3 separate regions of the Homo sapiens genome follow, and regions 1 and 3 are each reported to be linked to region 2. Evidence: microRNA targets listed by miRTarBase, many of them from high-throughput screens and not tested one by one. Region 2 holds a microRNA gene; each other region holds the end of a gene's coding sequence. Distances are from middle to middle.

Region 1 (3,256 bases), 23 Mb from region 2:
CAACCCAGGGTGTTAACTGCAGTGGGGTGGGCAGTTTACATATGAGTGATCAACTCAAGAGGGGCAATTTTCTTTCCCAGTTTCTTGCTGGTGAAGGAGAGTCAGGTGGGGATGGAGCAGAGTGCCAAGGAGCACAAAGCAGACAGCCACACAGTAGAAAGAGTGCAAGCTGTACTGCCTTGCCTCAAACCTGGGGTCTTACTCTGAGCTGAATGACGTGTCTGGGGGGCTCTTTTGCAGGGGTCATCCAGGGAGGAGCCCTGTCAAGCATTTGCACTCAGATCTTGGCAATGGTCAATCAAGAACAAAATAAAGTCCTGTGGATTCCAGCCTGCCCGCTCTAGGAGAATGCTGTGCTGTGGATGACTGCAGCTGGCCGCCTGAGGGGACACCAGACTCAGCTCTTTTCTAGCGACTGAAAGTAGAAGTCTGTCCGTCTATGAACATGCGGGGGAAGGATCCGGAACCAGGACCCAGAAGCACCTCCTTTGTAGACAGAGGGCCACGGCTGCGTGCGATCCAGGCCCAGGCCCACACACTCTGCCCGTGTCACACGTGTGCTTTAACACAAAACAGATAACACTAAAGACGGGTTCAGCACCCACCTTTCTTTAGCCAGCTGATCAGAGATGCTGCAAAGAGAACCTTTCGGATCACTCGTTTACAAGCCTTTTCTAAGTATTTGGTGGTTTATGTTTACTTGAACGGCTCCATGTTGCCGGTGCCCAGCCCCTGTCCCCTCTGTCAACCCCCTGTCGCTTTGGTGTTGGTTTCGTTCCCGTCTTCAGCAAAACGACCTTGGAACCTCAATGGGGGCTGCTTTGCTTTGGGAGGTTCTTGTTGGTGGGACCAGAGCTTTGACAAACCTCCTGCTCCTTGGTGGCACCTCTCCTGGAAGGACGTCACAACTCCAGGTGCTCAGACTGCCTGTGGCAGCAGAACCAGTGCCTTTGGCATTTTCCTCCCACAATGGGGAAGGTGACTTTGGCATTCTTACAAACTCGTCTCTCGGCCTTTCTCTCCTGCCTTCCACAGCCTCTCGTTTCTCCTCCATCTGTGCTTATTACTTGAGGACTGTGTCTGCTCCGTGAGAGCTGCGTGGGCAGGGCTGCAGTGGGGTCCAGGTGGTGTTCAGCTGTGCTGATGCCTGCCATTGGGTCCTCCTTAGGCTCTGTAAGTCGTGACAGCCTTCATCAGTGCAATGTTTGCAGGGTAATTCTTAAACTTTTTAGAGGGTGGCAGGTACATCAGTTCTTTTTGATATGAAAACATTCATGTTTCAGACATTGAATTGAGAGCTTTTAGGGGAAGCATAATGGTTATTGTCACTATCAACAGTCTAAAAAGAAAAACTGAGGTCTTTTTAATCTTGATTACAGCACTCACGGCATGCACCCTACTCAGTGTGGGTGTCTTCGTTTGGGGGCTTTTTTTTTTTTTGCACTTCTGAGGCTAGATATGTCTGGCTGAAGATTTGATGTGGTTCCTCCTTAAGCTATGCGTCCTGTTAATAATAGGTACTGTACTGGGCTCTGTGTAAGTGTCGTTGGGGTAGGACCTATATTTTAATACTGTTCCTAACATTTCATTTTACTAGCGAGAAATCTTTGATTTCATTTTATTCTTTGTAATTCTAGACACTAGATTGTAGTTTAGCCATAACTGATGTTTTTTAAAAAGGGATATATTTTCTTGCACAGTTGTTCAAAAAAGAGACAAGTTTCAGTCCTCAATGCTGTCCTTTGTTTTACAGGTACAAGTTTTCTAGCTCAGACAAACTATGAAAAACTGTAGACTATTCTCAAGGTATTAACTCGCAGACCCTCTGGGGGTAGGGGCTGTTTTCTAAGTTACAGGCAGAGTGGGACTGAGATGGTACAGTGTGCACAGACAGGTACTGAGCTGACAGACTGGGATTTTCTGTACTAAAATGTTACTTTGTATCAAAAGTTAAACAGGCTTTAGTACAACAAATAAAGGTCAATTTCTGTAAGGCTGTGTTTGAAGATGTGAGTTTTTAATCTCTTCCTAGTCAGTCAGCTTTCCTGTATTTCTAAACTTGAGACAGCTTCTCCTCTGCAGCACGTAGCTGGAGTTGGCTGATGTGTAGGTTCTTTCTGTCTCACATGACAATTTGCAGTCCCTGCTACCCGCTGCATCAGCCTCTCTCTCACTCCTTCCTGCCCTTCCCTGCCACCCATCTGTCCAGTGTGGCATGAACTGGTGACTGCAGCCAGGCTGCCCATCTGTGTGAGACCCAGATTCTGCCCTCTGGCCCTCACATTCAATTCTGCAGGCTTGGGAAAAGCAAAAGGGAGTGAGCTGAGTGCTCTGGGTAGCATTCTCAGTCAGGGCCCTGTCTGGGGCCCTTGGCTGGGAATGGCCCCACCTGCTTGGGGGCTGCTTTGTAGTACCTGACAGCATCACACTGGGAGATCACCCAGCATTGCTGGACTCCCAGAACAGCCCACGTGGGCCTGAACTCCGTGTTGCAAGGTGATGAGGAAGTTGGGAGGCTGGGCCTTTAGCTGCAGGAAGCCAGGTTGAGGCCTGGGGCAGAGCAGAGCCCTCCTTCTCTGATCCTTTTTCTTGGAGGGGCTTGGGGGCAGAATGTTCTCCAGAAGCTTCACTCACACTCCACTGGTGGCCAGGCTGGTGGGGGCAGACTGATGTGGATGCCTCCCTCATCATTTCCTGCTGGGTGAAGTTCCACTGTGGCCCTGCAGTCTTGATCTCACCTGTGGCCACGGGGTGTCACAGAGCTGTGCGGGGCTCTGGTAGTTGGAGTGGGCCCTTGTGTCCATAGGGACAGGGCCTGCCTCTGTCTCCTTGACAGCCCACACCCTGCGCCATCCTCAGAATGGGCAGCAGAGCCGTTGATATATTTTTTTTTTGAGACGGAGTTTCGCTCTCGTTGCCCAGTCTGGAGTGCAGTGGCATGCTCTCAGCTCACTGCAGCCTCTACCTGCTGGGTTCAAGTGATTCTCCTGCCTTAGCCTCCTGAGTAGCTGGGATTACAGGCGTGCGCCACCACACCTGGCTAATTTTGTATTTTTAGTAGAGACGGGGTTTCTCCATGTTGGTCAGGCCGGTCTCAAACTCCCGACCTCAGGTGATCTGCCTGCCTCGGCCTCCCAAAGTGCTGGGATTACAGGCATGAGCCACCACTCCCGGCCTAACACGATGGATTTTAAGTCACTGACTGGGCAGATGGGGGTGTAGGGGTTGGGGTGGTGGCTGCTGGTTTTAGGGCTGG
Region 2 (3,256 bases):
ATTGTTTAAAGGATGGCCCAAACTTAAGGCCAAGTCACATCAAACCCATCAGAAACCAAAAGTGTGGCAGAATTCCTAACAGAAGGATGAGAGAGGAAGAGCCTTATATAGATCTGTCTTCTGTTTCACATTCTGACTATTCTAAAGCTTTTAATGAAGAATTCCCTAGAGTCATAAAACAAAGGCTAAATGGTGAGTGGCTGCAAATACACATAAAAATATAGTGAATTTTTTGAAAAGATATACTAATTTCAGGTGGCTAGAAAGATTTATTAACATAAGTAATAAAGGTCTTTTAGTTGTCAAAGTAACTTATACTTAATATTTATTGCAATTTTAAAAAATTAAAATGCTAAAAATTATTTGTGAAAATGAGTTGTTTTATATGTTTACATTTAATAACAATACTTTTTACATAAAGAAAATACAATAATTAAATATATCTGAACTAGTCAAAAGATAATTATAAGATTTAAAATTGAGTTTATGTGCAATAAATGTGGTAAACAATAATGTGATATAAAATCTTCTAAATTTAATAATATTCTTGGTAGAGGATTCTGGGGCAAAAATATGATTTTCTCCATATCCCTGCCCACTACCCAATATATGATAACATGTGGCATTATTAAATATGGAAAAATATTAAAGAATGGCAGTAGACTAGAGAGAAGAGAAGGAAAGGCATACAGGAAATCCAGGTCCCTGCCCTCAGAGACCTCTCAATTCCTGGCATATGTTTATGTTTTGAACATTATGCAAATTTGTCTGCATGACAAATTTATTCTTGTTTCAGGTTAAGAGTAGAAATCAACCCATAGTCCTTACGATTAGAATTGCCTTAGCATAACGATTCAATCAGTAAGAAAATATAATAGACTAGAGGGTAATGGAGATTTTAAAATTTATATTATCTTAATATATTTATTAGAAAAAATATTAGATTGCTCAATAAATCAATGGTAACTTTAAGGCTTTTACTGTCTACTACAAAGAATTTTTATAGATATATGAAGAATGATGGTAAGGAAGAGATATGATGCCATGAGGCCTACTGTGAGCAAGACACTGCTAATCAGGCTATTAGGTTGGTCCAAAAGTAATTACAGTTTTTGTCTTTGAAAGTAATGTCAAAAACTGTGATTACTTTTGCACCAACCTAATACTTCCGCACTTTGGAAAGGCTTTGCCTACATCATTTTGGTTATTGTGAGAAGACTTGCACACATAAGGAATTTTTCAAAATAATATTTTAACTTGAAATACTTTTCTTTGACAAATACAGTAAAAGTGATAGAGCCAAAAAGAGGACTAGGCATAGCCCTGAGGGGATTTCCGAGCAAAAAAATCCCAGGGGATTTGTATGCAAACACTTCGCTCAATAAAAGGAGAGGCCAGGTGTGGTGGCTCACAACTGTAATCCCAGCACTGTGGGAGGCCGAGGTGGCTGGATTGCTTGAGCCCAGGAGTTTAGGACGAGCATGGGCAACATGACAAAAACTTATCTCTACCAAAAAAAAAAAAGAAAAAATAGCGGACATGGTGGGGTACACCTATAGTCCAGCCACTTAGAGAGGCTGATGTGGGAGAAACGCTTCAACTCGGGAGTTTGAGACCCGCCTGGGCAGTTTAGTGAAACCTCATCACTACAGATAATAATAATAATAATTATCTGGGTGTGGTGACACACGCCTATAGTTTCAGCTACTCTGGAGGCTGAGGTGGGCGGATAGATTGAACCCAGGATATCTAGGCTGCAGTGATCTGTGATCATGCCACTGCACTCCAGCCTGGGTGACAGAGACCCTCTCTTAACAAAATAAAAAATACAAAAAGGAGAAAGTCATCAAACAAAATGATGTGACTTAGTCTGGTAATATTCGTCAAGAAGTCAAGATTTATGCTCTCTTACAATTCTGACTTTCACATTGAATTAAATTAAGGGTGTCTTGGCTTGTTTAGTGTAGTTTAGTAAAATACAGTCATTTGTTTTCCACAGCTATTATATTATTCTCCATTAAAAAAAGAAGAAGAAGAAGAAATGAGAAAAAAAAATCAGTCCCTAGCTAGAAATTTTAAGAGTCAATAACATTTGGGAAATGAAAATATATTCTGAAGTAGTATAATCATACCCAAATTTTTAGACTCTGTACTCAATCTATAAGATGTATGTGAGCAAAATATTATTAGAAGCAACATGAATGATAATCACGCACTACAAGCGCACGAATAATGTTTCCCTGAAAGGTACAATAAAAAATTATTCAATGTGAAACAAAACGTTGACTGCAACAATTATTAAAATTTGACTATTGAATTGTCAGTATACTCAATTATGAAGACATTTGGAAAATATAAATGAGCACTACTGTTTTTGCTCATTTTTTAAAAATGAAAATTTTTGGTAATGTCTGACCTGAAGGCAGATATTCATTATAATAGTCAAATATCATAAATACATTTCAAATGTTATGTATTCTACATAAATTACTCAGGAGAGGAACATGTAGGCTCATAAACTTGCACACAAGTAAAGGAATGTTTCTTAGGAAAAAATTCTGTGTTAAAGATATTCCACACCAATGTCTCAGGAAAAGGCATTTGTAGTATACTGCTCCATTACCTATGCTTCATAAAAAATGCAGCTATCTAATTTAATTTAGCTCTGAACAGATTTCTTAGCAGCATAATTTATGTTTTGAGAATATCTCTTAAGAATCATAGCTTGCAATCTATGGTGCTTCAATGAAGAATAATCTGTAAACAAAATCTCCATCTATCAACAAAGGCCATTAAAGACCATAAAATAACCCATCCTTGACTGATTAATGCTGCTACTGAAAGGGATTTCAGGCTATTAACATCCAGAAAATATACTGCCACTGTGGTTGCATTTATTATAAATCACATAGTTATATGTACTGGTGTAAAGCAATGTTTTCTTAACCACCTCCCTCTCCCAAATTAATTTAATAACAAAGATACTTTGAAGAACACTAAATATCTATAGAAAGTAAATGATTCTATTTTTTTCCCTAGAGGAAATGTATGTGAAGGCAGGGCTATTTATAATACATTAGATAGCTAAATATTGGTTTAACACTTTATATGCAGTTCAATTATGTTCATATATTTATGTCATTAAAATAGTTTCTCTAATGTAAAATAAAACATTAAATTCATTTGTATTTCTTGATACTTTTATTAACAATACTGATGGTTTTTCATGGGTAAAATAGCCATCAAAAATTGTTAG
Region 3 (3,249 bases), not on the chromosome of region 2:
AGGAGCCCAGGCCTCTCCTCCACGCACCCCTCACTGGCACCCCTCACCATCTCCCATACATTCCCTATGGTGCAGCCTCTCAGTCCTAGCACTAAGCTCAAAATACAGATAAGAGAACAAACAGTGCAAAAAGCAAAAGGTGAACAACAGAGTAATTCTTGACACATACAATACAAAAATAAAAATAAAGAATCCCACCCCTTTAACCTAAACTTCATGTACCTATATCTTGGAGGAGCCACAAAACAAAAACAAAAACAAAAAAACTTTCAAGTTCAGCATCATGAGCCAGCTGTGACCAGCCCCAGGGAGCTCTTGTTAGCTGGATAGGCTTGGCTCCAGGGGAGTCTACCCCAGCCCCCACCATACTTCTTCCTGTTTCCTCACTTCCCCTTTAGTTTTTGTTAGCCATAGAAAGATGTTCCTTCCTTTCGTTCACAACCAGAGAGGAAAGCGCCCATCCCTAACCCTGAGCTCAGGGGAAAAGGGTGGGCTTGGAAACAGAGGCAGAAGCAAAGCTGCTTGGCTTACAGTACCATTAGGAAATGGCCCCAGGAGTCAGGGTTTCCTTCTGAGACTCTGAGTCACTGAAGGGATGTGTTGAGGTGGAAGGCGGGACCCCCTCCTTCCTCAGACAGACCCAGGCAAACTAACAAACAAGGCAAAATGGAGGCAGCCAGTCCTCCTCCTTCATCTTGACTAACCCAATGGCAGTGGCCCAGGGCTTTGGGGAATTTCGATGGGATAGGAACCAAAGCTACTGCCAGAAGCCTGTTTAGTTAGGATGTCCACTGCCCCAGGCAGGTGGTCCCCAGGACCAAGGCTACAGTACCTTATCCTTTAGAAGCAGGGGAGCTGTGTGAAGCACTATGGGAAGTATACCTCTGACTGCAGCCTCGGGCCACAACCCTCCAGCTGCCTGACTCAATACCCTAGCACTGAGACCCAAGTCACAGCGAAAACAACAGGCTACAATTCTCAAACGACTAAATGCTGGCCTGGAGTAATCATTAAAGAGCCAAAACCCAGGACATGAGCCCAAGAGCTACCTATTTTGTCACATAAGGAGCAGTTCAAATATACAGAGCTCTTAAAAAACATATCTAATAAAGCAAACTCAAAATTAAACACATTCTAGAAAAGCGGGCCTGGCCTGAGATCCTATATTGACTGCTCCAGCCCAAGCTGAAGCTAATCCTGCTGTCTCCCATCCACAAAATTCCTTCTAGCTTGGCTGGGTCCTCCTTCATTGTTGCCCTAACTGGGAAATGGATGACAATGGCCAGAAAGGAGGGGACCAGGGAAGCTTCATTTCCTATAGAAATTTTTTCAGGGAATTCAAGATCGACACTTAGATGCTAAGGTTAGCTTCAGAGCTGCCAAGGCTCTGGCTGACTGGAATTCTTTCAGTCCCATCACACCAAGAACCTGACTGCTACTTGGATAGAGAAATGAAAGGACAGGGGAAGGAGGGGCATACTATTAAGATCAATAAGAAGCATCGCTGGGCCTATATAGCTAATTAGTCTAGTTCCTTGAAGTAGCTCTAGGCATAAACCAAAACTGGCTGAACTGTGACACACAAGAACATGGGAATAAATGAACATCAGATACCAGACACTCTAAACAGTGGTCAGTCACTTAGTAGGGCTCAAATCTCTGAGGTTGCTCTTAAGCTATGCTAACATAAGCCTTTTCTAATCCAAAGACCAGAAGAGACTTTTAAGGTCAAGTGTTCTGTTGCTGCAGGCTGGAAAGCATCCCTGCCCCCTGGCAGCAAGGCCCTACAAAGGGGCCAGTAAAGAACTGCTGGGTCAGGTCCTCCTGGCTGCTGGCTCAGAGATCCAGGGAGGGAGGTACCAACAAGGTGAGGTGGTAAAGGAGAAGACATTCAAGCAGAGAACCCCAAATCCCCGTGTCTCCTTCCCTTCTTGGCTATAACTTAGTGGGATGGTTGAGAGGGAGAAGAAATTTCAAATGAGCCAGATTAAGGAAACAAACAAACAAACAAAACTGAGAAGAAATCAAGTCCCCAACAGGCACTGAAATCAAAATGATTTGTTGTGGTAACAAGTCAGAGGCGATCTGAGGACCCGACATAACCGAAACGTCTTGGATGCTGGACAGTCTATAACTGGCACATGCCAGGGAGACAAGCAATGACAAAGCTCAAACACTAAAGGTGGGACCATCACTGGATTAATCCAGAAAGGCTTCCAGATAAGGAAGCATTTTCTTTCTTTTTTTTTAATCTCCCTACTTTTTTTTTTAAGTCTTTACCGCACAAATTCTACCCCTTCACACACATTCTTTCAATCCCAGGACGTCTGAAGTCTTATCTAGACATAACTTCAGACCGTACCTAACTCCCAGTGCTGGTCGTCTCAGGTAATAAGATGGCATTTCCCTGCTGTTAATTTCTAACCTAAAAAAAGGAACAGTGACTCCTCTGAGTTCAGAGTCCTTTCCACTAGGTATACAAATGAGGATCCTTGAGCAGGAAGGATCCAGTTTACCCTAAGTATCCTCAAGAGGAAAGAGAAGGCTGGGAGCCAGCCACAAAGAGAGGACGAGGACTGAAGCACGTCTGGGACCAGGTGGTGAATGAGGGCTGCTCTCTACTCGCTCTGCCTCTTTTTGTCTCCTTTAATTGATGTGTGTTTTTTTCTCTTTGTTTTTGTTCATTAATCATTGTGAAAAATACAGAAACCAAAACCAATATGGCTGGTTTCTTTCCCACACCCCTCCACCCTGTTCAGGATAGTCATTTGTTCTCACAACCGGCAGAGGCAGAAGAGGGTTGGAATGAAGACTCCGAAGGCCACCAGGATGGGAAACATGAGGCTGCTGTTGTCCGAGGCATAGGGGTTGGGTGTGCGGGGGCCTGACTGCACCCGGTTCTTATTGGTCTGTTTTTTGAGATTAGACCCTTCATCATATTCTTCTTCTTCTTCTTCCTCTTCTTTCTTCTCCAATCCCGGATGAGGCTGAAGCTTTGGTACATCTAACACAAGGAAGAAAACACTGTTAAGACCCACAGCATTTAAGTAAGAGAGACCCTTAAAAGCAGCAAATAAGCCACAATAAAGAGATTGCTGTGATTGAACCCGGGTCCAGAGAAAAGACCAGAAGTAGCAGAAATAGCCTCTGGTCTACAGAACAGCAGAGTGCTGCAAAAGCTTTAGATTTAACTAGAAAGTAGAAAAAGCCGTGCTCATAGGGAGGTTCACTATCTTACCTTCCTGTTCT

The links. Region 2 holds the annotated microRNA hsa-miR-548f-5p (UGCAAAAGUAAUCACAGUUUUU, at 1,133-1,154, opposite strand). A microRNA usually pairs through its seed, bases 2 to 8, with sites in the 3' UTR of a target mRNA and lowers its output. Matches are read on the target gene's strand: a 7mer-m8 pairs with bases 2 to 8, a 7mer-A1 pairs with bases 2 to 7 and ends in A, and an 8mer does both.
Region 1: the mRNA of DLG5 is a reported target of hsa-miR-548f-5p. Seed matches in the 3' UTR shown: 7mer-A1 at 1,437-1,443.
Region 3: miRTarBase lists MLEC as a target of hsa-miR-548f-5p. Seed matches in the 3' UTR shown: 7mer-m8 at 133-139 and 7mer-A1 at 125-131.

Annotation. Positions count from the first base shown.
Region 1 is chr10:77,789,528-77,792,783 of GRCh38, reverse strand. It overlaps DLG5 (discs large MAGUK scaffold protein 5), which reads left to right. Exons shown (of 32, transcript NM_004747.4): 32 at 241-1,993. The coding sequence ends at 344. Among named protein-coding and RNA genes, the nearest start is that of DLG5, 140 kb to the left of the region's middle.
Region 2 is chr10:54,606,794-54,610,049 of GRCh38, forward strand. It overlaps MIR548F1 (microRNA 548f-1), which reads right to left and starts at 1,164; the gene lies at 1,081-1,164. The region is part of intron 2 of PCDH15 (protocadherin related 15); the gene reads right to left. It overlaps LOC105378311 (a long non-coding RNA gene), which reads left to right. Exons shown (of 6, transcript NR_134503.1): 3 at 1-192.
Region 3 is chr12:120,696,071-120,699,319 of GRCh38, reverse strand. It overlaps MLEC (malectin), which reads right to left. Exons shown (of 5, transcript NM_014730.4): 5 at 1-3,004. The coding sequence ends at 2,775. Among named protein-coding and RNA genes, the nearest start is that of MLEC, 11 kb to the right of the region's middle.